Regions from separate parts of the Homo sapiens genome. Here regions 2, 3 and 4 are each reported to be linked to region 1. Evidence: microRNA targets listed by miRTarBase, many of them from high-throughput screens and not tested one by one. Region 1 holds a microRNA gene; each other region holds the end of a gene's coding sequence.

Region 1 (7,390 bases):
GGCTGAACTGAAATATATTGGTGGTCTCAAATCTGGCTCTGCATCGGACTCACTAGGAGAATGTTAGAAAAATAGATTTCCTAGACCTCACCTTCAGAAATTCTAAATCTGGCGCAAGGCCCTGGGAATTGGTAGTTCTAAAAAGCTCTTAGATGATTTTGAAGTGCAGCCATCCATTAGCTCTGGCAACATCTTTTTACCTCACTTTGCTTTAGTTTTTCCATCCAGGGACTCCAGTACTTAAAAATTCTTCACCGGTGCAGTTAGTAAGAAGCACTTGAAGAGCTATTTTACAGTTCTTCTGCTTTGGCCTTTCTCTTAGAGACTCTGAATCAGTAGGGGCTGAGAGACTCTGAATCAGTAGGGGCTGAGATGAGTCTTTTGAGAAAACTCCACAGACTATTGATCCAATTTTGCATTTAGCCAAGAGTCATCACACTGGGTGGTTTCTAAGGTCCTTTACAGTTAAAAACTTGAATAATAGATGTCATATAGCACTAGGATTTAAAAAGTCTAAATAAAAAAGGTAGAGAAGAAAAATGTGTTGTCTCCTCCCTAATCTTCAAGTGGCCATACTATTAAATTATTTAAATGCCTGTGAACCCCACAGGGCTGCCACCTGTCACTATATTATGTAGGCTGTCCAGTAAAACTCTAGGGGCACTGTTCACTTACATGAGGATTTCTGAATCCTGGTGCTATTTAGTTTAGGCCAGATAATTCTTTTTTTTGTAGGGGGTTTCCTGTGCATTATAAGATATTTAGTAGCATCTTTGGCCTCTACCCATTAGAGCACAGACACATTGTCAAATGTCCCTTCGTGGGCAAACCACTGACCTAGACAGTAATATGAATAGTGCCCACAGTTTTGCAATTTTTTCTCATTGTATTCTTTACCACTTACTGCTTAGGTATGTGCATACAAATTTGATTTTATAGGATAGGAAAAGTATAAGTTTGAAGCCTATTTCAATCCTATCCCCATATGAGTGTCTTGATGTTAAACAACTGCTTTACTTGCCTTCGATTGCCCTATTTATAAACTGAATTCTAAGGCTATTTATGTGAGTTCATCAACTTTCCTAAGATACCTGTTGAGTACCTACTGTGTGGCACAGATACTGGATGAAGGAATAATAGTTAATAAGGTAAAGGAAACCACCTGTGATTAGAAGCGAAATGGGAGACTGCATGGGGAAAGATGAAACTAGTGAAGTAAGCAAGAGCCAGATTAATGCCGGATTCTGAAAAGCCATGTATTCTAATTCTGTGTGTTTGTAATTGACCTGTGCTATAAAACACTTAAAGTCTCTGGGTGTCAGAGTATCTAGAGCTGAACTTGGTTTAACTTGAAAGAGAAATGTTGACTTCCAAAATGAATATTTCAGACAATGTGATTCTTTTGTATTATCGAATTCTGTTGATAATCAGATTTCTTGTCCTTAAGTATGGTCATTGACTGTAAATATAAATGAATGTACATCACTGTACTTGATAGATGGATTAACCAGGTTCTAAGAGCTGTGAATTCCAAAACAATAGAAAAGCCTTGTTTTTACTTTGTAAGATTCAGTTCCTCATTAACATTTCTTTTTCTCATTTCTCTCTCTGTTTTAGTCTTGTGAAAATGCCATTGTGTGCTGGAAACCTGGCAAGATGGAAGATGATATAGATAAAATTAAACCCAGTGAATCTAATGTGACTATTCTTGGGCGATTTGATTACAGCCAGTGTGACATTTGGTACATGAGGTTTTCTATGGATTTCTGGCAAAAGGTATCAACATACTTTTACATTTTGAAATGATCTGACTTATGAAAGACCATTGTAATTCTAGCTTTTTCTGTTGTGTCCATGTTCTTTTTCCTTTACAAATCTACCCTGATGTTTTGTATTGATTACTTTGCCCTTTGATGTCATTCATCAAATACTTTGGTGTTATTCATTCTACTTTTGTGGCTCTGCATATGATCTGCAGTGCTTACTTTAAATTAAGTTGGCAGTTAGGTATCAATGGTGGAAATTAGGTGTTTATGTTCCATAACATAAACATTATCATAACATTACTAAGACTTAATGTTTTAGTAATTAGATTGTCAGTCTACCTATGTAACTGTTTCCTAGAGAAAAATCAGGATAGAAGACAGATAAAATACTAGTTACCTAAAAATTTAAATAAATCTATTGTTAGGATTTTCTGGTAACAAATTACTTGGGTATTTATTTCTGTAAGAAAAGTTTGGAAGGCTTTCCACAGCATTTGCTGTATTTCTTGAAGGCAGAAGAAAAAGTAAGTACCATGCTAACAATGTAAATTTGTAAGGCCCTTCATAAATTTGCACAATGCCTTCTTACTTGCTCAAGACACTTGTGATGTATTAATTGCTCTTATTCATATTTACGAATCAGGAGTATAAGACCCAAAGAAATAGCCAAGAGCACAGAGGCTGGAACTGAGCTTTTTCTGAAACAAGAAAGCTGTCTGAGGATTCCTCCAATGCTTTAGAACCTGGTAATTTTATTAATTTGATGTTTTTAAAAATATGTTTATACAGATGCTTGCATTGGGCAATCAAGTTGGCAAACTTTATGTTTGGGATTTAGAAGTAGAAGATCCTCATAAAGCCAAGTAAGTATTTAGAAATTTCTGTTCAAAATTTCAGGCTTTTTCTCCACACTTGTATGCCAATGTAGAGAAGATCATTTATATTTGCAGTGCCATCCTTAAGTCATTTTTAACATTTACTGTTTTCAGAGTTAAAGTTATTCTTTTTTATTCCAATAATTTTTGTTTTTCCTAAGTACCTTGGTGACAAGTCATTTCTTGTTTTTATACAAATTATGTAGTGCTTGTTGAACTTAAAATATATCTAAATTTTATAAAATTTGAGACTGAGCTCTTAGTGAAGTATATTCTGGTTTTAAGTGCTTTTCGTATGACTTGGAACATCTGCTTATTTTCTAATCCGCTGTTTTAGGGTAGACACTGACAACGTTATGTGTGGTCTTTAACCTGTTGTCATGTTTTTTCCCTAGATGTACAACACTGACTCATCATAAATGTGGTGCTGCTATTCGACAAACCAGTTTTAGCAGGGATAGCAGCATTCTTATAGCTGTTTGTGATGATGCCAGTATTTGGCGCTGGGATCGACTTCGATAAAATACTTTTGCCTAATCAAAATTAGAGTGTGTTTGTTGTCTGTGTAAAATAGAATTAATGTATCTTGCTAGTAAGGGCACGTAGAGCATTTAGAGTTGTCTTTCAGCATTCAATCAGGCTGAGCTGAATGTAGTGATGTTTACATTGTTTACATTCTTTGTACTGTCTTCCTGCTCAGACTCTACTGCTTTTAATAAAAATTTATTTTTGTAAAGCTGTGTGTTTAGTTACTTTCATTGTGGTGAAAAAAAGTTAAAAGTAATAAAATTATGCCTTATCTTTTTATAATGGTTGTTTTTTGTAGTTCTCTTAACCAGAGAAAGTTTTGTAATACAGAGATTAAGTATAGGCTCTAGAACTAAAGTGAATTCAAATCTTGGCTCTCCTACTACGTGACCTTGGATAAACAACTTCTCAATGCTTGGTTCCTTGTGTATAAAACAGGGATAATAATACTTGCCTTGGGGTTATTGTGAGGATCAAATGATTCGTTATGTGTGAGACAGTTAGAACAGTATTTGACATATAATAAGCCCTAAATGTATTCTGTGTTTATAATTATTGGAGATTATAGTTCCTATGGTTTTATATTTTTTAATGATTTCTTATGTAATAGTTTCATAAGTAATATTTAAAATTCTACAGAGTTAGAACCTCTGATAATGTTTAACTGTAACCTTTCTTTATAGTTTAAAAAATATTACTGCCATTAGATTTGGAACTAGGCCATTGGTAACCTTAGAGGAGATATCATTAGGGCAAAGGAGGAGAGGATATAGAAGTTTAAATGCAGTGGGTTGGATCATGAAAGAGATGGCAAGTATGTCCATGTAGTGAGTTGTTGCCCCTTTTCTAGAAGGATGTTACTGGCTAAGAGGGATTAAGTAGATTGAGATCATAAGGTTGGGAATAGTTGGTTATTTTGTCTCCAACATAAGGCACACTGCATTTATTTGTGGGCAAAAATTCCCTAAAGAGTGAAGACCAAGATCACATGTGGAGGGGTTAACTTGAAGCAGAGGAGTGAAGAAAGCCTGAATGATCATAAAGCTAAGGTTGGAGGTGAAATGAGGTGAGCCAGAGAAAAATACAAAAGACTGAATTTTGTCAGGTTTTTAAAAAGATTCATGAACTTGTTTCTATAAATATGTATATTTTTAAAGTTTAGTTTTGATATCTTGTACAGTGTTTGATACTGCCCCTTTTTGAGCTATCTCTGAAGCACAGTTTACTTCTCTGATAATAGTATAATGCTTAAGTCTGAATAAACAGGAAAACTTACTGCCTTTTACTGTCTTGGTCCAATGAACGCTTCAATTGTTTTTTAGAAATTTTAATAGGAACTTCAAGAAGTAAACCTTTATAGCAAGTAAATTCTTACGTACAGCATCACAAAAGACAAGGAATACTGTCATATCCTTTTAGCAAAATGAGATTGCCTAGGTTCTTGTTGCAAAATACCACATAATGAAATCCTTCCTGTTGCATGATTAACTGGGTGAGAATATCATCTTTCCTTTTGGTCCGTAGAAATGTATTATTCACTACTCCATTCTTGAGGTTTGTTTTTTAATTTTTTTGGAGACAGTCTCACTCTGTTGCCCAGTCTGGAGTGCAGTGGTGCGGTCTCAGACGTCTCACTGCAACCTCTGTCTCCCAGGCTCAAGTGATTCTCGTGCCTCACCCTCCCAGGTAGCTTGGATTACAGGTGTGTGCCACGATGCCCAGCTAATTTTTGTATTTTTAGTAGAGGCGGGGTTTTATCATGTTGACCAGGCTAGAATATCGAGTGTTAAAGTTAGTGCAGATAATGAAAGATCCAGGAGTCAGAACTCACAGGCCAGTTATCAGCCACATGTTTATACTCTATTTTTGCCCTCTCTCCTTTCCCTGAAATACTAAGGAAGTAACATCTCTTTTCCTAATGGATGTTATCCAGAGGCCCCAGTCACCAGTTATCTCATTAGCCTACAAAAACACATTATTTTCACTCAAGTGATCTCAAGGTTCTTAGAAGTTATATCAGGAAATGGAAATCAAGAAGAAATTATATTCTCAAGGGTCTTAGAAGTTGTATCAGGAAATAGAAACCAAGAAGAAATTATATATATGTCTTTAATTGACCATTGTGTATATTTATAGGGTACAATGTGATGCTTCATACATGTATACAATGTAGAATGAGCAAATTGGGCTAATATATCCTTCACTTTGTTCCTCATCTTAAAGGAAAAGCCTCCAACTTTTCACTAATGAGTATGATGTTAGTTATTGGCATGTCACACATGGCCTTTATTGTGTTGAGGAACATTCATTCCTTCTATACCTATTTTGTTGGGAGTTATCATGAAAGGGTGTTGAATTTTGTCAAATGCTTTTTCTGCCTCTATTGTGATAATGTACAGTTTTTGTCCTTCATTCTGGTAATATGGTGAATCACATTTATTAATGTGCATATGTTCAAACATCCTTGCATCCCAGGGATAAATCCCACATGGTCATGGTGGATGATTCTTTTAATGTATTGCTGAAGATGATGGTTTGCTATTATTTTGTTGAGTGTTTTTGTATTTACGTTCATCAGGGATATTGTTTCTGCTAGTGTCCTTGGTCTGGCTTTGGTATCAGGCTAATACTGTCCTCGTAAGATGAGTTTGGAAGTATTCCTTGCTCTTCATTTTTGGGAAGAATGTGAGGATTGGTATTAATTCTTTAAATGTTTAATAGAAACAGAAAAGTGCCGTCTTGGGCTTTTCTTTGATGAGAGACTTGGTGTATTAACAGTTGTAATATTTCCTCTTTCATTTCTGATTTGAGTCCTTTTTTTCTTATTAAGTGTTGCTATAAGGGTTTGTCAATTTTGTTTAGCTTTTTGTTTTTTCATTTTTTTATTTTCTATTTCATTTATTTCTGCTCTGATCTTTGTTATTTCCTTCCACTAACTTGAGGTTTAGTTTGTTCTTTTTCTAGTTCCTTGAGGTGTTGAGGTTTAGGTTGTTGGTTTGCGATCTTTTTTAATGCAGGCATTTAATGCTATAAACTTCCCTCTTAAAACTGTTTTTGCTGCATCCCATAAGTTTTGACATGTGTTTCCATTTTCATTTGTCTCAAGGTATCTTTATATATGTTTCTAGAGTCGGGGTCTTGCTATGTTGTTCAGGCTTAGAGTTCAGTGGCTATTCGCAGGTGCAGTTATAGCTGTCACTGCACCCTCGAACTCCTGGGTCCAAGTGATCCATTCCTGCCCCAGCTTCCCAAGTAGCTACGACTGTAGGCATGCATCACTGTGCCAGGCTTTCAAGACATCTTTCATTTTCTCTTGTAGTTTCTTTTTTGACCCAATAATTGTCCAGTATATTTCTTACACAGTGTCTTAGGAAAGATAAAACCAGCTTTGATATGTTGAGTATTATGTTTCCGAAAAGACAAGACAGGGTTGTTTTTCTTAACTTTATACTTGAAAGTTTCAAACATATAGAAGAGTGAAGAGAGTAGTGAATACTATGAACCAAGTCAAGCTTCAACAATTATCAATACATAGCCAATCTTGATTTATCTATACATCTACACCAGATTGTTTCGAAGCACATCCCAGACTTTATTTTAACTGTAAAAATTTACTCTATATTTCCAAGAAAGACTTTAAACAAAATATCAATACCATGCTCACCCTTTAAAAAGTAATTTCTAAATTATATATGCAGTTTATTTAGAAGTATAAAGAAAAAAGTAAAAACTACCTTTAATTTTTGTACACAGAAATAATTGCTTTTAGTGATGGGATGTATTTTGTGTGTGTAAGTTTAAAGAATTGTGATTGTCTGAATATATTGTTTATATGCTGCATTTTCAGATTCCCAGTAATTCTTAACAGATTATTCTGCTTGCATATCTTTTAATACATTTCCATGAATGTACCATTATCTATTTAATGCCTTGTTGTTGGACATGTTCATTTCTTCCAGATTTTTGCTATTATAGGTAGTATTTTGAATAACAGGCCAGTACACAAGTCTTTGTGTAACTCTCAGGCTCATTTTATAATTAGATAGGATATTTCTTTCTTATTAAGTTTGTACCAAATTACACTTGCCCCAACACATATGGTAGTACCCATTCCAGTTTTGTTGTTACTAGTTTCCTGTATATTATCTCTGCAGATCAGGGTGTTTTTTCTGTAAAGAGCTAGATAGTACATATTTTAGGCCTTGCCATACAGTCTCGTCA
Region 2 (7,390 bases), not on the chromosome of region 1:
TCCCTTTGTTCTCGGCGCCGCAGCCCCCGCGGGCGAAGCGAGGGGAGGGGCGGGGAGGGGGCGCCGGCCGGGCCCTGCCGCCTTCTTTGTTCGCGGCCCCGGTCCCCGGCGCTGCCCCCCGGCCGCCCCGAGTGCCGCGCGGGGAACAAAGGCGCTGCTGGGCCACGCCAAGGGGGCGCCCAGGGGCCGCGGAGCTGGGGCCCGGCGGGGAGCGCACTCCACCCGCCGACCCGACCTCGGTGGCCCACGGTCTTTTTTTTTTTAAGGGGGAGCCGAGATGCGGGAGAGCCTGGGGTGGGTGGGGGCCACTTACACAAAGCGGGAGGCTGGGAAAATAGGCCGTCCAGGTGCAGAGAGACAGCGCCCCGGGGCGGCTTCCCGCCCAATGTCGCCTAGAGCGGCTCGCCCGCCTGCCCGGGATCCGCACAGCAGATCCGGAGCGGTTCCGCGCGGAATAGAGAGCGCGCCCCGGGGGACGGGGGTGGGGGCCACGGGACCCCAGCGCCTCCTGCCGGTCGCGCCCTCTGCGCGCTCGCTCCCCGCGCGCCCGTGAGGGGCGAGAGGGAGGTGTTTGACGGGATCCTGGGTGTGGGTGAGGCTGAAGCCAGACTTTCGGGTTGCAGTAGAATCGAATCGAGGACCCCTTCCTCTAGAAGGGATCAGAAGCGGGCTGGGGGAGGGGGAGCCCCTGCCCTCATTGCTATTCCCTCTGCCCTGCAGGAGAATGGCCACGTGAAAAGCAATGGAGACTTATCCCCCAAGGGTGAAGGGGAGTCGCCCCCTGTGAACGGAACAGATGAGGCAGCCGGGGCCACTGGCGATGCCATCGAGCCAGCACCCCCTAGCCAGGGTGCTGAGGCCAAGGGGGAGGTCCCCCCCAAGGAGACCCCCAAGAAGAAGAAGAAATTCTCTTTCAAGAAGCCTTTCAAATTGAGCGGCCTGTCCTTCAAGAGAAATCGGAAGGAGGGTGGGGGTGATTCTTCTGCCTCCTCACCCACAGAGGAAGAGCAGGAGCAGGGGGAGATCGGTGCCTGCAGCGACGAGGGCACTGCTCAGGAAGGGAAGGCCGCAGCCACCCCTGAGAGCCAGGAACCCCAGGCCAAGGGGGCAGAGGCTAGTGCAGCCTCAGAAGAAGAGGCAGGGCCCCAGGCTACAGAGCCATCCACTCCCTCGGGGCCGGAGAGTGGCCCTACACCAGCCAGCGCTGAGCAGAATGAGTAGCTAGGTAGGGGCAGGTGGGTGATCTCTAAGCTGCAAAAACTGTGCTGTCCTTGTGAGGTCACTGCCTGGACCTGGTGCCCTGGCTGCCTTCCTGTGCCCAGAAAGGAAGGGGCTATTGCCTCCTCCCAGCCACGTTCCCTTTCCTCCTCTCCCTCCTGTGGATTCTCCCATCAGCCATCTGGTTCTCCTCTTAAGGCCAGTTGAAGATGGTCCCTTACAGCTTCCCAAGTTAGGTTAGTGATGTGAAATGCTCCTGTCCCTGGCCCTACCTCCTTCCCTGTCCCCACCCCTGCATAAGGCAGTTGTTGGTTTTCTTCCCCAATTCTTTTCCAAGTAGGTTTTGTTTACCCTACTCCCCAAATCCCTGAGCCAGAAGTGGGGTGCTTATACTCCCAAACCTTGAGTGTCCAGCCTTCCCCTGTTGTTTTTAGTCTCTTGTGCTGTGCCTAGTGGCACCTGGGCTGGGGAGGACACTGCCCCGTCTAGGTTTTTATAAATGTCTTACTCAAGTTCAAACCTCCAGCCTGTGAATCAACTGTGTCTCTTTTTTGACTTGGTAAGCAAGTATTAGGCTTTGGGGTGGGGGGAGGTCTGTAATGTGAAACAACTTCTTGTCTTTTTTTCTCCCACTGTTGTAAATAACTTTTAATGGCCAAACCCCAGATTTGTACTTTTTTTTTTTTTCTAACTGCTAAAACCATTCTCTTCCACCTGGTTTTACTGTAACATTTGGAAAAGGAATAAATGTCGTCCCTTTAGTGGTGCTTTAATGAGTGGTCTTCTGGGGGTAGGGTGAGAAGATTGGTGGAAAGTAGTTTACCTCAAACCTCAAGGGAGGAGTTAAGGCAGGCAGGTAAGTTTATGGGGTTTTCTTGTTCAGGGGGTTGCCCCAATACTCATGGACACCAGAACGGCAGGGAAGTAGAGTTGAAACCAACCCAGGGACACATAGGAAACAAGCTCAGGAGGATATAGAAATGTACCATTTTATTACAAAGAGGCTCACAAAAATGAAAATAGTATCTCAAAAAGGAAACTAGACTAGCAACCTCCACCTGCAGAATTAGGAGAAGACAGACAGAGGGCAGGCAGTGTTTCTTGGCTCACTTGAGGCCAGTGGGAAGGTACGAAAACAGAACCAATCTAAAAATGGCTGATGTTACTTTAGGAGCCTGAAAAAAACAGGAGATCCTTGAAGACCCAGCCACCCCTTCTAGAATGTTCAATAAGGGCACCTTTCCAAAGCTACTAAGCAGGCACTTGGCATTTCAGGAGTTTGTCTTATGGTTGCATAAAAGTATCCCTTTCACCCAGACCTGGCACCCTTTATGGTTCAAAGTTAAGAACGGGAAGAATGGGTGGCAAGGTGGCTCCTGGAAGAGCTCACCCAGCACAGCTGCCCTGAGCTCGGGGCCTTGGTTTCTGTCCCTGGGGATATTTATATTTAATAAATTTTTATATAAATACACAGAGAAATAGAAAATATAAAATCTGAGGGGTTGGGGAAGAAACGTGAGGGACTCAGCAGGAAGCCAGAGCTGGAGAGGTCCATTCAGGCCAACTTGACCTCCTCCTTGACCCTGTGGAGAGAGCAGAGACTGGCATGAGATGACCCAGCCCAGAGCCTCAGGGCAAAAGTGCAGACAGTGACTTCCACAGGATCCTAGGTGACTACTGGGGGCTGGGGCTCCTAGCTCTGCCTAGAACTGCAGAGCTGGACAGACTGGTCCCTGAAAGAGGCCTTTGTAAGCTGGACCAGCTGTCCCTGTGCCTTTCCTCAGAGTGGTGGGACAAAGGGGCTGGTGCTCCAATGCCAGGGAGATGGCCACAGGCAGCTCCTTCCTCACCCTTTGGCTTCTGGCTTCTCCTCCTTGGTTTTCTCCTCTTCGGTGACTTCTAGAACACAAGAGTACAGGGATGGCCAAGGGCAGCACCTCTGGGAAGACCCATGAGGTCTTCATTTACCCTGAGACCCCTTCCCCAACACTACAGCTCACTGGACATAAAGAGAGAAAAGCCCATCCCTGGTCCTCCCAGTGAGCCCTGTTGAGAACAGGTTGGACTGGTTTCCCAGCCTGCTACAGCCAGAACCTGGTGGGCGGAGGCAGCCCCCTGGGAAACTGGGGTGCAGTGCTGGGAAAAGGGCTGGGGTGGTATGTGAGAGCCGTGCTCAGGCAGTAGAGGTTCATTGTTTTGTGGGCTCTGCCACTTCTGGGAGCCACTGAAAGGCTCAAGGAACTGAGGAAGAGCCCCACAGGAGCTGGCAGGGCCTGAGTCACTCCCTCCTCCCACTGCCCTACATAGATTCATCCTCTCAGGCTCGAGACCCAAGTCCCAGCTGAACCCAAACCCACCTTTCTTCTCCTCTGGGTCTTTCTCTTTTTCATCCTCTGTTTTGACTCTCTTGGCTTTTTTGAAGTTGGAAGAGTTCTTGCGGCCCCCCTCTCCCTCCTCTTCAGAATCGGAGAACTCTTCCTCACAGGCAATTCGTTTGTCAGAGGAGCAGACTGGGAGGGAGTGGGAAGCATGGGTGAGAGGGCAGGCGGGTGCTGATTTAGCTCAGCATCTATGCCCAGTGCTTCCCTGCGTGTCCTCCAAGAGACACCAAGGGAAAGGGAACCAGAAGAGGGAGGAACTCGGGCTCCCTAACCTGTTCCTACAGGCACTGGAACTCGAAAACAGATTTCTCTACAGGTGGGGAGCTTGGAGGGAGTGTGCAGCCAGGAATGGTGGTGGAAGTGTGAGCTGCCTATTGAATGGAAGGCATAGGGCTCTAGGTCTGGGTCTCACTCGAGATGCGCTTGTCAGGGTCGTCTTCGTCCTCATCGCCACTCTCCTCAGGGATGGCGTCCTCAGGAATCGCCTGCATTTGGACCCCAGGTGCGTGCGGCAGCATTCTAAGGTTCTCAAACAGTCGCTGTCTGTGGCCAATGGGAGAGAGTAGCAGGGCTCTGGTCAGGGACAAACCAAAGTCAGGAATGTTCAACCAAGGGGTGGCTGGAGGATATACTCACTTGATCTTCTCCAGGTACTCATTCGTGTTCTGGTTAGTCATATTGGAAGGACTGATGTGGAGCTTGAAATCTGGTCCAAAGTATTCAAAGTAGTCATTGTATGGAAGCTCTGATTGGGGCAGGAGAGAAGACCGTCAAGAGACCTGGCCACCGCACCCTAACCATTTGCACGTAAGCACCCTAAAGCATTTGTAGGTTTCTCTGGGCCTATTTATCCAAACAGAGGAGAATGCCTCCAAGACACTGTGAGACACGGGTACCTATGGGATTTCCATCTTTTTAACATCACTCTCCTATGTCTGTACCAGTGGTGTATATGTCGCTAGGAGAAGGCCCATGTCCCTGGTTTAGGACACTTGAGGCCATGCTCATTATGAGCGCTCCCTTCACTCGCTACTCCAGTTACTCTACAGAGTAGAAATTCCAAAGCTGTAAATTACCAATGAGAACTTTGTCCAGACCAAAAGCAGGAGGGAGAGGGGAGAGAGCTAAAAAGGACTAGGGAAAAAGTGATGGTTATGGTCTGCTGATCACAAGAGGACAGGCAGGAGACTCAGTGACTAGTATCAGAAGAGGAGCGGTCATATGACCAACGGGGAAGGGGTTATAAACTTAAGGACAGATGAGCTCCAGCTCCCACCCAGCCCAGCCGAACCTGGCCCTGCAGCTATTACCATTAGGGATCTCCGTATCCAGGGCCACAGCTGTCTCATATGTCCAGCACCGGGCAACGTTACGAATGGTGTAACCACCGCCTCCCAGCATCAGCATAGGCAGGTTAAAGCTCTTGACAAATTCCACACACTTGGCGTGTCCTTTGGTGGGAGAAGGGGTGCTGAGTTACAGGAGCACCAAGCAGGACCCCGCCCACCCATCCTTGTGCTACCTGGTCTCACCTTTGATAGTTAGATTGAAGCAACCTAACCGATCCCCAGATAGGGAGTCTGAGCCACACTGTAAGACCACCGCACTAGGCTGGAACATCTCCATTACTTTGGACATGACCTAAAATGATACATCCTGGTCACCACCAACCTCAAGAAAGCAATACGAGGTTTGGAGTGGAAAGGCTGGGTGCAACACTTTCCCACCCACTCCTACCTTTCCACTCTCCCTCATGCTATGTGGGAGAGAAAAGGGAGTGCTAGGCTGGAGCCCTTGCTTGCCCACTTGGGATTTCAATTTTCCAATTTAAAAAGTTCTCTAAGACCCTTCTAACACTCTAGTAACACTGAACCTAGAATGGCCTCCCTCTCAACTCCCTAAGTCTCTTCTGTTGCCCAAGCTCTAGTGCCACTTCCTCCAGGAAGCCTTCCTGACCTTTAGCTGCATCTACTCTACTCATTCGGTCTTACAGACTTGAAGCCTTACATTATGAGCAAGCACTTTTAGTTTATCTTATTCTCACAAGCAGAGTCTAACGTTACTGAGACCGAGACCACAACTCCCACTTCTGTAGCCCTTATTAAATACTAGGCACATAGTGGGCAGTCAGTGTTTGCTGAATGACTACCTGACCTTATTAGGTTAAGCAGTTTCTTACTGTTTATAAGTGAAGATTTAACTCCTTGGCATGGCATTCAAGGCTCCCTTTGAAATACTGAGCCCAGCATACACTTCCCACCGCCTCCTTCAGCACTCCTCCCATACACCACACTGGCCTACATGCTGCCACACTGGCACCTCTGCACTTCTGCTAGTGCCATTCCTTCTACTAAATGCCACCCTTACTGCCATCACCTCCTTCTTCACATGGGCACCTCCTCATTTTCCAAAGTCCAGCTTAAACATCAGCACCTCTGTGAAATCATCCCTGGCTACCCTCCTGCCAGCCCAGGCAGTAGTTTGTCTCTCATTCCTCTGATCATCCCTCAAAAACACAGGCACTAGGCCAGCCTACCCATGGAACATGCCACACAGCCTTTCCAGAATCTCTGGATGGGCTGACTGGCAAAGGGCTTTCCCAGACAAAGCCAGTCTGCAAAGACTGGAGTAAGTCCCTACTTCTTCTAATGTGCAGACATCAATGTAAGGCAATGAGGAACACAAAAAACCAAGGAGACATACCACTACCAAAAGAACACAATAATCTCCCAGCAGCCCAAAGAAATGGAGATACAAAAACAGTACTAATCATAGACTACTGGGTATGTGCCTGCCTTCCCCACCATAGTCCGTGAGGGCAAAGATCATGTCTTAGATATTTTTGTATCCAGCAGAAGACCTGACCCATAGAAGGAACCAATAAATATGGGTGTTTGTTCCCCTAACTGACCACACAGCAATCCAGGGTTCAAACACTTCTATCTCCCCACCAGCTTTAGTAAGGAGAGATTCCTGAGGTATGGTGGGGGTGCTTTGCTCCCCTCCACCGCCAACCAATCCCCTGTTTGTAGCCCAAGGGGTGGATAAAGCCACTTACCGGCTTGAAAATGGCCTCATAGGACTCGTCATCAATCCCGTCTCGGAGCGGGTAGTTAACAGCATAATACTTGCCTTTGCCAGCCCCGATATCCTAATTAAAAAGGCCATTAAAGTAAAACTGAAGGATGAAGCTTGAAGGAAGGTCAAGGATAGGGGCTGGAGGGATAAAGGAAGAGGTTCAAGAGAGACAAGCTAGGCCCATGATGTGGGCCAGGACAGAACAGAGGTACCTTGTTAGTACCATTCTCTTCACTGGCAAATCTAGCTTCACTGGCAAATCATCTCTGGACATAGCATTAAGCCTACCCCCAGACTGAGAGCTCTTGATGGGACCAGAGATTGAATAGCCTACCCTATAGCACAAGATTTCTACCTTGGGATTGGGTTAGAGCTGGCTGGCAGGTGAGTCACAGAAGTGACAGCCACCCTTGACAACCCTTTCCACTCCAGAGAGCTCTAATGCTCACTCCTCTTCCCCCATGCTCCCTCTCTAGGGTGTTGTGGAGGGAAGGAGAGAGGTAAGAAAGTCCTTCCCAGTAACCTCAAAATAGTGAGTGCGCCTATTTAAGTCCAGCACTTTGGGAGGCTGAGGCGGGTGAATCTTGAGGTCAGGAGTTCGAGACCAGCCTGGCCAACATGGCAAAACCCCATCTCTTTTAAAAATACAAAAATTAGCCGGGCATAGTTGCACGCACTTATAATCCCAGCTAAATCCCGGCTATTCGGAGGCT
Region 3 (7,390 bases), not on the chromosome of region 1:
CTGCACCAAAACTAAAATATACATCTGTCAAAAAGATCTTGTCTATTCTAGCATCTGGTGTTCATATAAATCTTAAAATTAATTTGTCAAGTTCCATGAGCACATCTATTTGGATTGTAATACAGATTGCTTCCGATTCACATAATTTGGAGCAATGATATTGATTGCATTTTCTGTGCGTGAACATCTTCTCTCCATTTACTTGGGATTTTCCCAACATATTAGAAAATATTATTTTCTTTATAAAATCTTACACAGTTCTTGTGATATTATTTCATAGGACTGTTATAACTTGTTGAATTACATTCTAAATTTAATAACACTTTTTAAATGTTGGTATTCTGATTTTAGATATTGATCTTATATCCAGTAACTGTGCTAAATTTTCTCACTACTTTCAATGGTATGTTTGTAGATTCTATAAAATTATCCATGTAGATGTAGATGTCATCTGAGAACAACTGTTTCTAGATTCTATAAAATTGTTCATGTAAATATCATCTTAGAACAGTAAAAATTTTGTTTCTTCCATTCCTGCTTTTAAAGGGAGTGCTTCCAAGTATTCATTAATAAGTATAGTAACTGGTGTAGATTTTTGGTACATACCCTTTTGCAGTGTGTACAAGTTCTTGAGCTTTGGTTTCTATATTGTTAATGTCTTTGTTTTTTAGGCAATAATTCGTATTGAATTTTTTCAAACTATTTTTCAGTATCAGTTCAAATTTTCACATGGATTTTCTCTAATGGTAATGTGATGATTTTGAGATGAAATCTTGCCATCCTGTGATTAAACTGACTTGTTGATGTTTACTTTTGTTATTTTAAAGGAGTTGGTTTGCTAACATCTTCATTTAAAAAAAAAATCTATTTTGGTATTATTTTGCCTGTTTTTGTTGTTGTTGTTTCATTTACTGTATTCTCTATAAAATTCTAATTGTGTGGTGTTTTAAAAGTTATAGATGTATTCATTTACTTAAAAAATTAACAATTCCTTGAGTTACTTTTGAGTTCTATTTTAAAATAGACTTCCCTTTTTTTGTTTTCAAATTCATTGCCCTAACGTTGTTCATAAGCATCATGGATTTTTCATTGTTTTGTTTTTAATTAGTCGTTTGATTTATTACTCCATTGCTTCAACAAAGACCGCTGACCTAGGAGTCACAACAGCAGCATTCTACTTTTGCTTCCACCACTTGTAAATTTTTGCTTTTTGAACTATGGGCAAGTCACTGCTGCTGAAGATTTTTTTTTCATCTCTAAAATCAATTTAGTATTTCCTTTTTAGCTCACATATTTCCAATGAGTCTCAAGAAATATGATTGAAAATGTTTTCAAAAATGGGAAAACAAATACAAACAAAAACACCGCCAAGAGTTTAAGGTTTATCCACAAAACCTTTTTGAATAGGAACATCACTTCTAATGCTGTCCTCCAAAGCAACATTATGGGCATCTTTTGGAACATAAATGAAAATCAGAGAGCTCGTAATCCTTCACAGCAGAGTAAAACTTCTGAAATCTGGTATTATCTCTGGCTGACTTGAAAACTGGCAATTCGTTAACCATAATTAAACAACAACATGAAAATAAATTTAATAATTGTTGTGCTTTTAGCACATAGTTTCTTCATAAATCTCTTTTAAAAAATTGTAAGAAAAACTTCACAACACTTCAGATAGGTCTTAAGAGAAGGCAATGTTACTTATTAATGTGTGCACAAGAAAGTTCTTCCTGAATTTTTAGTTACTTCAGTACACTTCATTTTGTCTTTCACTTTGTCAACATCAAGCAATCATTTATCAGATTCTTGACCTGATGGTACATGCTGTAGTTAAATGCTAAATCTAGGAGGTTAAACATTGGTAGTTAAAAGGTATGCAATGTGTTTTTTTTTTTCTTTAAAGATCATACTAGTCAGAAAACATAAGAAATAACCTTCAAAGTCCCATTGTCAAGTATTTGGTAAAGCAGGGGTCTTGCAATTATCTTTTTAGAAAACTAATTAGCTTAGCACTAAATATATTAAACTCCAAACCTACAAAACAGGAACCAAAAGTATTTGCTGCAGATGTATTTGAAAGCTAATTGATAGTAGATCCCTACAGTGAATTTTAATAAAAGTAGTAGAAATCTTACTTAAGGCAAAATACCCAATCTTGGTGAAATTTCATTTGAAGAATTTCTCCTGCTATGGTTACATCATGGGTTTCACACGTCAAATTTTTAAGTTTTCTCAAATCACCACGTTGGCCCTGGCCTATTTAAACTGGACAGTGACAAGTACATCGAGTGCTCCTAGAAGAGAAGACTCAATACCATGTTACACATCTATAAGCTTCCCTGAGGTATCCTATTGAGTCAGATTCTTCTCTGGACTCATTTCTGTAATTTTTATTAATCTCAGTATTATGTCCAATACGAAACTTTAATAAATTAGAACACATAGCAAGAGACTGATTAGGACACAGGATCACTAAGTAGTTTCTAGGGGAAGTGCTCAAACTCTGGGTTAGGAATGGGATGAAAAACCTCAGAATTACTATTAAAAATGAAATGAAAGATCTAAAGTGTTGAGGTAATTTTTTAAGTATTGAGAAAAAAATTAGGCAGAACCATCGTCTGCTGTGAATCACTTTACCTTTTGAGAACAAGGATATTAGCTTAAAATGATGGTAAAATGTACTTACTAAGATATATTGAGTTCAATTCAAATGGAACTATCTGTCACAGTGGGCTTTTAGTGACAGGACTGGATTTATCTTACCACCTTCTTACCTCATATGGAAAAGGGATGATTGTATACGGTTTGGCTCTTTCACTGGATGCTACAGACAGTTAAATTTGCAGGCCAAATTGAGAAACAAGGTTGGACAGTTTCTCTGTTCTGATAAAACTCCTGTTAGGGAGGAAGTATTAAGGTTCAATAGCATTTCAACGTTTATCTCATTATGTCAATGCCTGAAAACATACAGCTTTAAAAGATGAATATACAGAGTCCAAGGACCAAGTAGTCATTTTTTAAAATTTTATTACTGTTTACCAATGGGGAGATGCAGTTTATTTACACCAGCAGCCATAGGGGAAAGGGGAATACAGTTAATCAGCTATCTGTATAGGATGGACTACTTATGCAAAAATAAAAATCTCCAAAACAAAGGACAGTGGTGAGCTTCACTACCCTCCCCCGATGATCCCAGCATGCGATAATGCCAGGCAGTGGTCCCTGGGCATGCGATGGTGGGAACTAATGTATGGAAGAAAAAGCCACAAACCACAGAAATTTTAAAGAACCCCCCCCTTCCCCCATAACACACACATACACACACACACACACTCAGATACATAATAGGATTGCAGGGTGATCAATACACATAATCAAGGGAAAAATAGGAATTCTGCTATTAAAAGGAAGGTAGGTAGGGAAAGGGAGAGTTCCTAACCACTGTCAACTATATGGTAGGGAGCATTCTCTCCCCAGAAAGGAGTATGTACCCTCTGGGCACCTGTTGGACCAAGCCCACCTTATACCCATCCAGGGCAGGAGGCTACTGCCCTATTGGTAGAGGGGCCAGAAACAAAAAACAAAAGGGGGGTAATATGAACAAAATACTACTCAAAACTACTTTCCGCTTCCTCCTCTAACCAGGAGAAAAGGCCAGAAAGAAAACAGTAATTTCAGGATTTGAGTTCCCTATCTGAAGGCAGAGGGATTGGACTGTGGCCTTTCTCCTTTACCATCATCCCACTTCCAAGACATTGTTAGGAAGTAGGCCAGAGTCTCACTTAGACTCTCCTTTCTTCATCCTCTTAGATGTCGTCTACAAGTCAAGGGCAAAGATATCTCCAAATTATTTTAGCTCTTGCCAAGGTTTGATTTTTTTTAAGTTAATGCAATTCTTTAAGACTAATCTGTAACTAGGCCCCAAGCCTGATCAGGACAACTCTAGGACAAGGCAGTAACAGTTCCAAGGCCCAAACTCTATGGTTTCCTTAATCCTCTAAAGTATGTAATCTAAATCAGTCTATACAGTCTAAATAGTACCTTCTGGGATAAGGATTGATACATGCACAGCAAGGGTGAGAGAATGGACAAGGACCAACTCCATCCCCCTGTGTGTCAATCAGCCTTTACTGCTCTTCTACTTAGGTCCTAACCGGCAGTATTGAAATGGAGGTGGGAAGATACAACTCCTTATGAAGTAAGACACAGCAAGAGGGCACACTAGCAAAGCAGTCCTATATAGGAGAAATGCTTATAGGCATGACACTGCATTTTAAATACAAAAAATTAAGTTCTCTTCCAATTCCAATCTCAACAGAGGGAGCCATAAGAAAGATTCTCCTCTGAGTCTTCTACAAAAACAAGGGAAAAAGAAAGAAAAAAAAAAAACAGAGGCCAAGAAAAAAGAAATTGGGCAGGCTTCGGAAGCAGGAGCATTAAGAGCTGAATTGAAACTGTTCAATGTGACAGCTGGAGTGGCAAGCAGCACCTGGGGCACCAGATAGGCAGTGGAGCAGGGGACAGGAGGAACACAGGGCCAAGCCAGACAGATGAGGCTGGACCCCCTACTGGGGCACAGAATGAGGTAAGAAAACATTTCAAATAAAGCAGCACCGTTCCCGCTCACCTCGGGGCTCCCACCCCTTTATACTTCATAAACCCTCGCTCAGGGAATAAAGTGGAGGGTAGTTTTGATATGTGACTCTTACTTCCCATCTTCCCCTATACCATTCCCTAAAGTCAGGAGATTCTGGAGGTCTTTCTCTGACTTCTAACAATAAAAGGACTGCTCCTGTTGTCAAGAAGATCCAAAGGGGACCGAGTGGAAAGGACTATCCCTTTCGAGCGGCAGACAGAAAGTGGTGACAGTCTGGATGTTCACCATAGCAGAGCTCTGACTGCCCAACCAAAGAAAACAGGGACATTCAACAGGATTCTGCACACAGTCAGATGAGATAATCCAGTCCTGCTCCTTGGCTCCTAGCACTAATCCATTCACATTATTGAGGGCAGCTGAAAGTGCCCTCTGGGCTCAGTTTTCAAACCACAGCCTCCTGCACAGCCATGATGCTCTTCCATACTTCAGTCCTGCCCCCAGGGTGGGAGGCAGATAGTGACCTGACTTAAGGACCAAGTCACACCCATGGACTGGCTAGGTAACCAGTAACTCAGAGTAGGAAATGACCGCCCTACTAAACTTATATCCACAGCATAATACATCCAGACATGAATCTTGAAGTTTGAGAAATCATGCATAGTTGCAGAGGTCCCTGCTACCTCCCCAGGGGATCATAACCGAATCCTCAACCTGTCTGGACAACCAAGTTGTCCATTTGCCAAGCCTATGCCACCAGGTTGGAGGGCAAGGAAGAGGGCTCTGCTCAGCCAAATGCTAGGCCTTGTCCTCAAGTCAGCTGAATCATTGTAGTCTGGACTTTTGGGAAACACGTGGTTTTGACCTTTTCTTCTTGCTGGAGTCAAGGCTACAGAGCTTCCCTATCAAACTTGATAATTCTTTTTCTTGGATTTCCCAAACTGAAACTGTTAGTATCCAGATCTTGCACCTGACATTTACTTGTCTCAGAGAAGCCCATAACAGAGGTTCAGATATCAAAGGAGCAGTCCCACTGCAGGCCACTGATCACGGCCTGACGAACTGTAACGTCCAAACTGTCCAAGAAGCCCTTGACATCAGGCAGACAGAAAGGCTGAGGAACCAAAAATTTTATATGCTGGGCACACAACTGCTCACCTGTGCACTGGGGGCACTACAGGATCTTGCGCACATCCTGGTGTGTTTAGAGATCAACAGGCACTGCATGGCCCGCAGGCTGTGCAGCTCCTCCTGCCCAGGGCTTCAGAGCTTGCTCCAGGTAATACACTTTAAAAAAAGGATTCCTAAATTATCCACTTTGGGTTTTTAAATGCTAGGATCTTCAAGGGGGAATTAAAACTTTTGTCTGATTTTTCTACTTTTTTCTACTTAGCTTACTCCTCGAAGCCACAGGACCAGTCTATGTTATTGTCCTGGCCACTTTCAGACTCTCATTTTGCAGCTACTGGAATTCCGGAGGTGAGCGCTGCAGCTGCTGATCAGGCCCATTCCCAGGTTCTCCGGGAAGGGAGCAAAGCGGGAGGCGGCACGCTCCTTTGTCTTCCACTGGCTGAATGCCAAAATCCTTCACGCTACCAGTCTCTGCGAACTCCAGGTAGAAGTAGCCACACTTGACTGCCCGGTGCACCTCAAAGCAGAATCCCAAACAAGAATCCTCTATCAGGTCTACGTAAATCTCCTGAGCGATGGCCTCTAGCTTGTTAGTATCCAGGTTGGCCAACGAAATTTCCTCCATTTTAATTTGTAAACGAGTGCGGAGAGGGCGCTCGTTTTACTCACGGCAGCAACACGTCTGGCTCCGCGGGCCGCGCCTAGGCCTAGAGGCCTTTCAGTGCCCAGTCCTCCGGCGGCGGGGTCGGTGGCGTCCGCAACTGCAGGAGCAGCGATAGGGGCGACTGCTCCGGAATCCCAAGTCCTTCTGTTTGTTTTGACGTTTCCCGGGTTGCGGGCCTTTCAGCTGCGCCTGGCCCAGGACTCACCGCCAAACCGTCTCAGCGCCTCACCCAGCCTCCTGGGCCTCTTCCGCTCCCCTGTCGGGCCTAGCCCCGCCTCTCCGCTTCCGCCCCTCAGAGCGCCTGCGCACTGGTTCCGCGCAGACTCTTGGGGCTTCTCAACGCGCTGCTGCTTTGAGAGCGTTTGAGTTTATGAAAAGGAACAGGATGAACTTAGTGTATGACTTCCATTATCTCTGATTATTAAAAAATTGCGAGGATGCTATTTTATGTTACTTTATTTGTAAATTTAAACATTCGCTAATGAATTCAGCAGCCACGCTTAATTGATATCCTCTGAAAAGTGGAAAATTTTAATAATTATATGCACTGTTGTGGTGTGATTCGAAACATCATTTTAGGAACAGTTCTCCGGAGGTGTTTGAAAATTTGACTTACATGATTGACTGGTGAATCGTTTATAGCAATGCTGCAGTTGTCATTTAAATCCACTAGATGGTGCAAGGAAACAAATTACAGTATAGTTTATCTTTCGGTCTTTTTTTGAATGGAAAAACTGGAAACTTGGTACTAAAGTCATAATTCGTATATATTGATCAAATAAACCCATGGCATCTATCTCACTTATGAGATCATTAAGGCAATGTGACTATAAAGAGATGATAACATACACCTCTAAAATAATTCAGAGAGAAAATTAGATGTACATTTTGACTTAAAGAGGAAGGAAATCTGAAATATGTTAAATATATTGGGAGATAAAATTTTTCCTAAAATTATATGCATGATTTGTGAGAACGGGAGCCAGTCTACCTAAGTTTAA
Region 4 (7,390 bases), not on the chromosome of region 1:
GGGCTTTGCAATGCAGCAGTGAAGCTGATTGAGTACACCGTAACTTTTCCCCAAGTTTCTTCAGACACAAAGGGTGCTACATAATCTCCTGTGATTAGATGGGCAATAGTTGTCTCTAATAGAACAAGGAAAGGGGCTATTTATAAAAAGCCAGAAATATTCATCACATTGAACATCTGTGGCTGTGTACTAGGCTCTGCAATGGATAGCAAGGTAGATAAAATACATCCCCTAACTAAGATGTCCTGTAGGTCACAAATATACACATTCTACAACATAAAGCTTCTAATCACCCATAATGGAAGCATAAGCAGTAGGTCACAGAATATTAAGGAAAGACAAAACCCTCAACCCTCACCTTGGGAATACAAAGAAGGGAGATATGAAAGAGAAGGTAGAATTTAACAGCTATCTAATGAATGCTGCTGAATTTAATTAGATGGAGCTGGAAAGCCTTTTCCAGCAGGGCAAGCACCTTAATTTTTATGGCATTTATTAGGTACATCTTGAGCTACTGCATAAATTTTTAACTGATACACAGTAGTTAATGGAATTTATCAAAATTTTTATTGCAATGAAGCCATATTTAGTCTGTCTTCTTGGTATGGTATATAGTACTTCCAAGTACAAATCTATCTCTCTTTTTCAGATAAAGATGGCAGGCCAGGCACAGTGGCTCACGCCTGTAATCCCAGCACTTTATGAATCCCAGCATTCATTAGACGAGGCTGAGGCAGGTGGATCCCTTGAGCCTAGGAGTTTGAGACCAGCCTGGGCAACATGGTGAAACCCCCATCTCTACAAAAAATCCAAAAATTAGCTGGGAGTGGTGGCGTGCACCTGTAGTCCCAGCTACTGGGGAGTCTGAGGTGGGAGGATTGATTGAGTCCGGGAGATTGAGGCTGCAGTGAGCCATGATCACTCATTACACTCCAGCCCATGTGACAGGCAAGACCCTGCCGCCAAAAAAAAAAAAAAAAAAAAAAAAGGATGACAGACTATATTAACATACCTGGCATTATCTTAATTTAAATACGTTCCTAGGAATTTACTGGAAATAATTTTTGTTTTCCAGGCCCTGGTATGCGTCCACCACTAGGCTTAAGAGAATTTGCACCAGGCGTTCCACCAGGAAGACGGGACCTGCCTCTCCACCCTCGGGGATTTTTACCTGGACACGCACCATTTAGACCTTTAGGTTCACTTGGCCCAAGAGAGTACTTTATTCCTGGTACCCGATTACCACCCCCAACCCATGGTCCCCAGGAATACCCACCACCACCTGCTGTAAGAGACTTACTGCCGTCAGGCTCTAGAGATGAGCCTCCACCTGCCTCTCAGAGCACTAGCCAGGACTGTTCACAGGCTTTAAAACAGAGCCCATAAAACTATGACCTCTGAGGTTTCATTGGAAAGAAAGTGTACTGTGCATTATCCATTACAGTAAAGGATTTCATTGGCTTCAAAATCCAAAAGTTTATTTTAAAAGGTTTGTTGTTAGAACTAAGCTGCCTTGGCAGTGTGCATTTTTGAGCCAAACAATTCAAAAATGTCATTTCTTCCCTAAATAAAAATCACCTTTTAAGCTAGAGCGTCCTTACAACTTTGAAATGTGCAATAAAGAATACCTGTGTTTTAGCTAATGTAGCATATGTAATTGCAAAATGATTTAGAATGTCATGAAAAATATGAACATTTCCTGTGGAAATGCTTTAAGAACATGTATTTCCATTATCCTATTTTTAGTGTACACCAGCTGAATACGGAGCAATGGTGTTTATAAGCGTTTTTTTAAACTATCTGGTCACAAAGACTGTTACGCTAAAAATGTTTACTAAAAGATCACTAAACTATCTCCCCTCTTGCTGAAGTTCTTTGTAGTAATAGCTCATAAAAATTTGTTTATTAATATTTCCCAAGTGTCTGTTGACTCATTGGACTGTTATGAGGCTTGTGCCATTTGGGGAACATGTAAACTCAGGCTCCCAGAACTGAAGATGGTGGCTGGTGGCACACTTCCGGCTGCTCCTCCGTCACCTGTGAACTCTACAAGTGACGTCTTTTTATTTCAAAGAAGTTTATTTCCCACTTGTATAGCATTCACATGCTTTCTTTACGATCCTCATTGTCTATTTGAGAATGGTTTTCTGAGAGTGAGTTTACATTAGTAGCAAGAGTTGTTTGACCTGATGTTCCATTGTTTTTACCATTCCTGTAGAAAAAGGGTGCACAACAGAAAAATGAAAATGATGTGTCATGGCCATAAAAGTATAGAAATCTTTAAAAATTTTAAAATGTACAGTCCCTTATCTATCTTTCCCATTCCTTGCCACTGATTTTTGAGGAATATAATAAAAAGATTGGAAGAGTATAATGCCATGAGAAAGAATGATTTAGGACTGTGAGGGTTATAACATGCCCTAGGTCAGCAACCAAGGGTTGAAATCAGTTCTGTTTTAGGGGGAAATGGGGGCGACAGATATTATTCCAAAATTAATATTAATTAATATTTAAACGTTGGTGTTTTTATTTAAAAATCAGTAACTAACCATCTGGAATTGCACCATACTTAAAGTCTTATCCATTACTACACTGTCTTTAAAACAATGTTTCTTTAAATACTCTACAACGTTTCTAAGAACGAACTTCAGACATTTTAATTACAGTAATAATAGCACTCCTTTTAAGGAGTTTCAGATCCACACTAAAACTAAAATCATAAAAGGCTGATACTTTTGTTTGCTGCTAGGCTATATTCTTCCATTCTTTGAAGTCCTATGATGTAATATTTTTGAAACCTAGTGTATGTCTTGTCACTGTTGTGATATTTAATCGATTAAGAATACCTTGTAAAAAGGAGCAAAAGCTTCAATGTGAAACAATTTTCTCTCTTTATACTAAACAACTGAAGATAGATAGTTTAGAAAGATAAGGACCTTTGAAAGAAGACAACTCTGTCAAAGTTCATAAGGAATATAAAAATTCTTCAGGAAAAGAGAATTCAATCTATATGTCCTCCCGTTTAATATCAAGAATAGAAGAAATTAAGAGGAAAACTCCACAGAAGAGCATAGGCCACTTTTAGCCATGTAAAAATAAGATTAAGTCACAAATACAACTTTTGAATTTACCTGTCAATATCTCTTTAGGACACAAAACAATGCTGAAGTTAATATAATTTCTAATTTTAAATGTCATTTAAGTGTAGATTATGCCATCTAGGAAGGTAAGTAGGAAAGGTAAATTAAATCTATTTTTAAAATTCAAAATATTAGAGTATTTTTCCCCTCTAAAGCCTTTTTTGGTGATTATTCTGTATCTGACATAATTGAGAAACTGGTAAGCTGTAAAGATTCCAGTGTAGCTTCTCTGAGAAGTTGTGAGCCAGTCCATAACTGCTTCCTCACATCCATCTGATTGCACCATTTCTGCAGCAAACCCCAAAGCAGGGTGCCAATATGCAGATGGCATAGGGAGTATCATCCCTCAGCCAAATCACTTTTCCATCTCTAAAGTTTCATCTATTTTGGAAGTCATCTCCAACTAATTGTGTCTGGATTTAGTTGCTAAAATTGTCTTATTTATGAAGCAGCAATATTCAGCCTGAAAGCATTTCTGCCATAGTTGTTGTAGTTATATCGCCAATGGCTGATTTTTTTCATTGGAAAGTAAATTTAAGTAATTCGTGGGATGTGGTATATTCTGTGTCAACTTCAAGATAATCACTCATTTTCTCGTTATATTCAGGTCTGAATTAAAGTTAAGTTAATCACACAGTGTTCAATTTAAGCTTCTTTAATGTTGATGAAAGGTATTTGTAGTTCATATAAACTATACTTATGTGAAGGATAGCAGATGCTTCATATAAATTATCATTTTGATATACATATCTTATGGTTTATGAGAAAAGAGAAAAAATAATACATCGGTTTTGCTACACTTTAATGGGTTTTTTTTTTAAGGGATTTTTTTTCAGGTCTTGTCAGCAACATCAAACAAAAGGTACTGAGTACTCCACAGGGTACAGAGTGCTGCCAAGCACCTTAGAAAAATTACATGACACGGAGAAAATGCGCCTCTTGCTCCTTGAAGAGCTTACAGTCTAGGGATTTGACAACTCACAGTCTTAGGAACTGGGCAAAGTAAGGCAAATTCTTCATCCCCTAGAGCTATTGTGGACTGAATCATTTTAGAATTTGGAATTAATCCAATCAAGATGAGAGACAAGACTAAATTTGGCTGAGAATTCATTCAGGCTCGCATAGTTTTTATTAACATCCGTCTAGTAAACAGAATGGACCTAACAGACAACTGAAAGTAAAGACTAGATCTCTTGAAGTGCAAGGGCTACAACAACTTAGTTGTGGTTACTTATTTTAAAAAGCAAACATACTGAATGGTATGACTAGGGTGATTACACTAGTTTAAAAATAGGCCAGGTACTGACACTGCATTCCCCTCATGCATTGCTCATTTAAAATAGTGAATATTAAAATATGTGGGCTTTACATCTAACCCACAGAAAGCCCACCGCAAATGTTCTGTGTATCAAATATCCACCTCATGTGTACTATGAAAGTTTTATTTATGCCCCATTAAGTCAAAAGTAAATTATAGTAAGCTAATGACCTGCATATTTTCATATGGATGAATGTCAGTATATCTAAATAGGAAATAAATGGCGATCCTATCTACCTATATAAAAAAAATAGAATATCTTTCCAGATTTTGCATACTCCTCACTGTAAGAAGAGGTATGCAGGTTTTAAGGTTTCACAATCAGTTGTCAGAAAAACAGCAGTTATGCCTGCAGTATCTCGTTAGCATCTGACTCAATTATTTTTAGATTACATTGTTTAGAAGACATTGTAAACCCATCTAAAACTTTGTAATTATTTTGAGATGGTTCCAATGTTAACCCTAGAATCATCATCAGAAAGAGTAACAATGTGATGTAGAAGAACAGCTAATCGACATGACTAAAAATATGCTCATTTTCAGAAAAACAATCTGGTCATCTGGAAACAATCACAGCTACAACCTAGGGAACACTCCCATGTGGGATACTGATCTGGCCAAGGCACACTTTCTAAGCAGGAAAACTATCAGATCAGGGTGAATTTAGGCCACTTCAGAGGTGCTGCCTATAAACATCCAGACAGACCTTCTTAGGCAGCAGAACTGGTCCCATTCCTCTCAAAGCAGTTTGACACTACCCTACCCACATCAACCCAAAGCTTGACGTTAAGTCAAAAGAGCATATTGGAGCAAAAGTGAACAGATGTGTAAACTCTAGCACATTCTTATTGCTGTATTAAGTCTGAAGATGAGCACATCCTACCCACAACAGTATTGTTCCAGGAAGCAGGGTAGGAGTAGTGGTAAATTAGAAAATAGACTATTAATTGCACAATTAATAGAAAAGTAAAAACATGTTTCAAAATCTACAATAAACCTGTATCCCAAGGAGTCCTATACGTCAGTGTGATGTGCTGGACTCTGAATTCTGTGGTACAGCTTTGCATTGGACTCCGTCCGGCCTACTGGTCTGGGTACGGCTTGCTTCCTGCCTGTTGAAGGGTGAATATGCTACACAGAGCTATGATGGTTTCTACTGAGTGGTAAAATTCACAGAAGTTCCAGGTTCATCATGTCAGGATCATTCCTTGTGCAAAGTTTGATGTAGATGAAGATAAAGTGGTTTCTTGGTCAATAATTGCAATTTCTTTCTTTTAAAGTCAGTGGGTTTCTTGTATCTGTAATCACAACAGAAAGACCATTGTTTAAAATACATTGATAACTGAACTCTTCAAGGTTAAATACTGGATATGGGGGATTCAGAAGAAAGATATACTAGTCACCATCAAATTAGTACTAATTCTATATGCACATCACTTACAGTTCTATTACAATTGGCCCAGGTTTAATTTCATCCATCTCCATGAAAGCAAAACACTTGGTGCTGGTAAACCTTTTTTTAGGCTTGTAGTGTTTGAATTCAAAGAAGATAGCTGCACCTAAGGAATTAAAACAAGCCACATAAACCACAGATAGCACATTTCTTGTGTGTCAATTAATTTTCTTTGATCACCAGAAGCATATGAACAGCTACAGCTGGCATAATTTGACAAAACAACTTGTGCCAGTCTCAATGATTTGACAGTAACTTACTATGGTTGTCACCCCGAACTCTTCTGTATCTGAGTAGAGTGACATTTCTCCTTATCATCCAATTCTACAAACTATAGCAAAACTTCTTGAGCTAGACTGCCTCAAGAATGTATAACAGTTATGTACACAGGTAGAATCATAAGCTGCTATAAAATATGAAATGCCACAGAAGAACAGAGAAGATACTTCAATACACATAGAGACTCATTAGGTAGAAAATGCATTTAAAAGAGTTCCTAAAAAAATTTAAGCTCGAATTGTTTCCCTTACCCCAAAACAAAAACTCAAAAATTCAATCTTGGGGGTATTTTGGAATTCAAACAACATAAATCACATGCTGGCTCAGCTGGAAAATGTTATCTGTTTCCTTAACACCTTTTTCAGTATTCAAAGCACTGCTGTGATGTTTTTCCTGGAATTGCATGTTTGTGTCAAGACAGTGCTGTAGAAGACAAAGGTTCAAAGAGCAAATCTATTTATTCTGCCACTCTCCTCCAATGAGCAAGTGATAATGAGAAATTTAGACAGTTCTGGCCGGGTGCGGTGGCTCATGCCTGTAATCCCAGCACTTTGGGAGGCAGAGATGGGCAGATCACTTGAGCCCAGGAGTTTGAGACCAGCCTGGGCAACAAGGGGGTGGTAAGACCCCACCTCTACAAAAAAAATTTTAAAAATAGCCAGGCTCGGTGGCACGTGCCTGTACTCCCAGCTACTCGGGAGGCTGAGTTGGTAGGACTGCCTGAGCCCAGGGAGATTGAGGCTGCAGTGAGCCATGATCATGCCACTGTGCCCCAGCCTGTGTGACAAAGTGAGACTCTGTCTCAAAAAAAGAAAAAAATAAGAAATTTAGACGGTCCTATGTCCCCAAAGTCCAACAGATAAACTCTTCCCCCAATCCTGCAGAAAAAAGCTAAAAATGGAGAAATAAGTTGCCTCATCAATGTGGCCAACAAAAATGAATTTCTAAAGAAGGCATGGAAAGTGAAGGAAGTCAGTGTCTCACTCTTCACCAGCTACTTCTAAATACTGCCTTAACCAGAGCAGTCCAGGAGCTTGGCTTGCAAAGACAACATACATTTAATACTGCCGCTGATGACAAAACTCACAAGTCACTAGAAGTTTAGCAATGTTCAGAAATGTGTGTACAGCATTGGCACTTGGGTCCAAATGGACCACATCACATGGCAAGGGAGGAAAAAAAAACCAATTGCTCAGGAGA

The links. Region 1 holds the annotated microRNA hsa-miR-6755-5p (UAGGGUAGACACUGACAACGUU, at 2,976-2,997, shown strand). A microRNA usually pairs through its seed, bases 2 to 8, with sites in the 3' UTR of a target mRNA and lowers its output. Matches are read on the target gene's strand: a 7mer-m8 pairs with bases 2 to 8, a 7mer-A1 pairs with bases 2 to 7 and ends in A, and an 8mer does both.
Region 2: miRTarBase lists MARCKSL1 as a target of hsa-miR-6755-5p. Seed matches in the 3' UTR shown: 7mer-A1 at 1,567-1,573.
Region 3: the mRNA of ATXN7L3B is a reported target of hsa-miR-6755-5p. Seed matches in the 3' UTR shown: 7mer-m8 at 4,683-4,689.
Region 4: miRTarBase lists AIDA as a target of hsa-miR-6755-5p. Seed matches in the 3' UTR shown: 7mer-m8 at 5,367-5,373.

What each region holds. Positions count from the first base shown.
Region 1 is chr11:86,275,363-86,282,752 of GRCh38, forward strand. It overlaps MIR6755 (microRNA 6755), which reads left to right and starts at 2,971; the gene lies at 2,971-3,036. It overlaps EED (embryonic ectoderm development), which reads left to right. Exons shown (of 12, transcript NM_003797.5): 10 at 1,618-1,776; 11 at 2,556-2,629; 12 at 3,037-3,448. The coding sequence ends at 3,163.
Region 2 is chr1:32,328,428-32,335,817 of GRCh38, reverse strand. MARCKSL1 (MARCKS like 1) reads left to right here. Exons shown (of 2, transcript NM_023009.7): 2 at 721-1,979. The coding sequence ends at 1,221. HDAC1 (histone deacetylase 1) reads right to left here. Exons shown (of 14, transcript NM_004964.3): 7 at 6,658-6,750; 8 at 5,132-5,240; 9 at 4,910-5,050; 10 at 4,236-4,344; 11 at 4,012-4,142; 12 at 3,576-3,728; 13 at 3,069-3,117; 14 at 2,192-2,801. The coding sequence ends at 2,774. It overlaps LOC124903949 (a long non-coding RNA gene), which reads right to left and starts at 441. Exons shown (of 2, transcript XR_007065661.1): 1 at 314-441. RefSeq lists silencers at 104-183, 324-763, 5,534-5,734.
Region 3 is chr12:74,537,073-74,544,462 of GRCh38, reverse strand. It overlaps ATXN7L3B (ataxin 7 like 3B), which reads right to left and starts at 6,628. Exons shown (of 1, transcript NM_001136262.2): 1 at 1-6,628. The coding sequence starts at 6,350. The coding sequence ends at 6,057. RefSeq lists enhancers at 5,605-5,694, 6,364-6,413.
Region 4 is chr1:222,664,234-222,671,623 of GRCh38, forward strand. AIDA (axin interactor, dorsalization associated) reads right to left here. Exons shown (of 10, transcript NM_022831.4): 9 at 5,900-6,017; 10 at 3,780-5,756. The coding sequence ends at 5,660. It overlaps MIA3 (MIA SH3 domain ER export factor 3), which reads left to right. Exons shown (of 28, transcript NM_198551.4): 28 at 1,076-3,774. The coding sequence ends at 1,386. Among named protein-coding and RNA genes, the nearest start is that of AIDA, 45 kb to the right of the region's middle.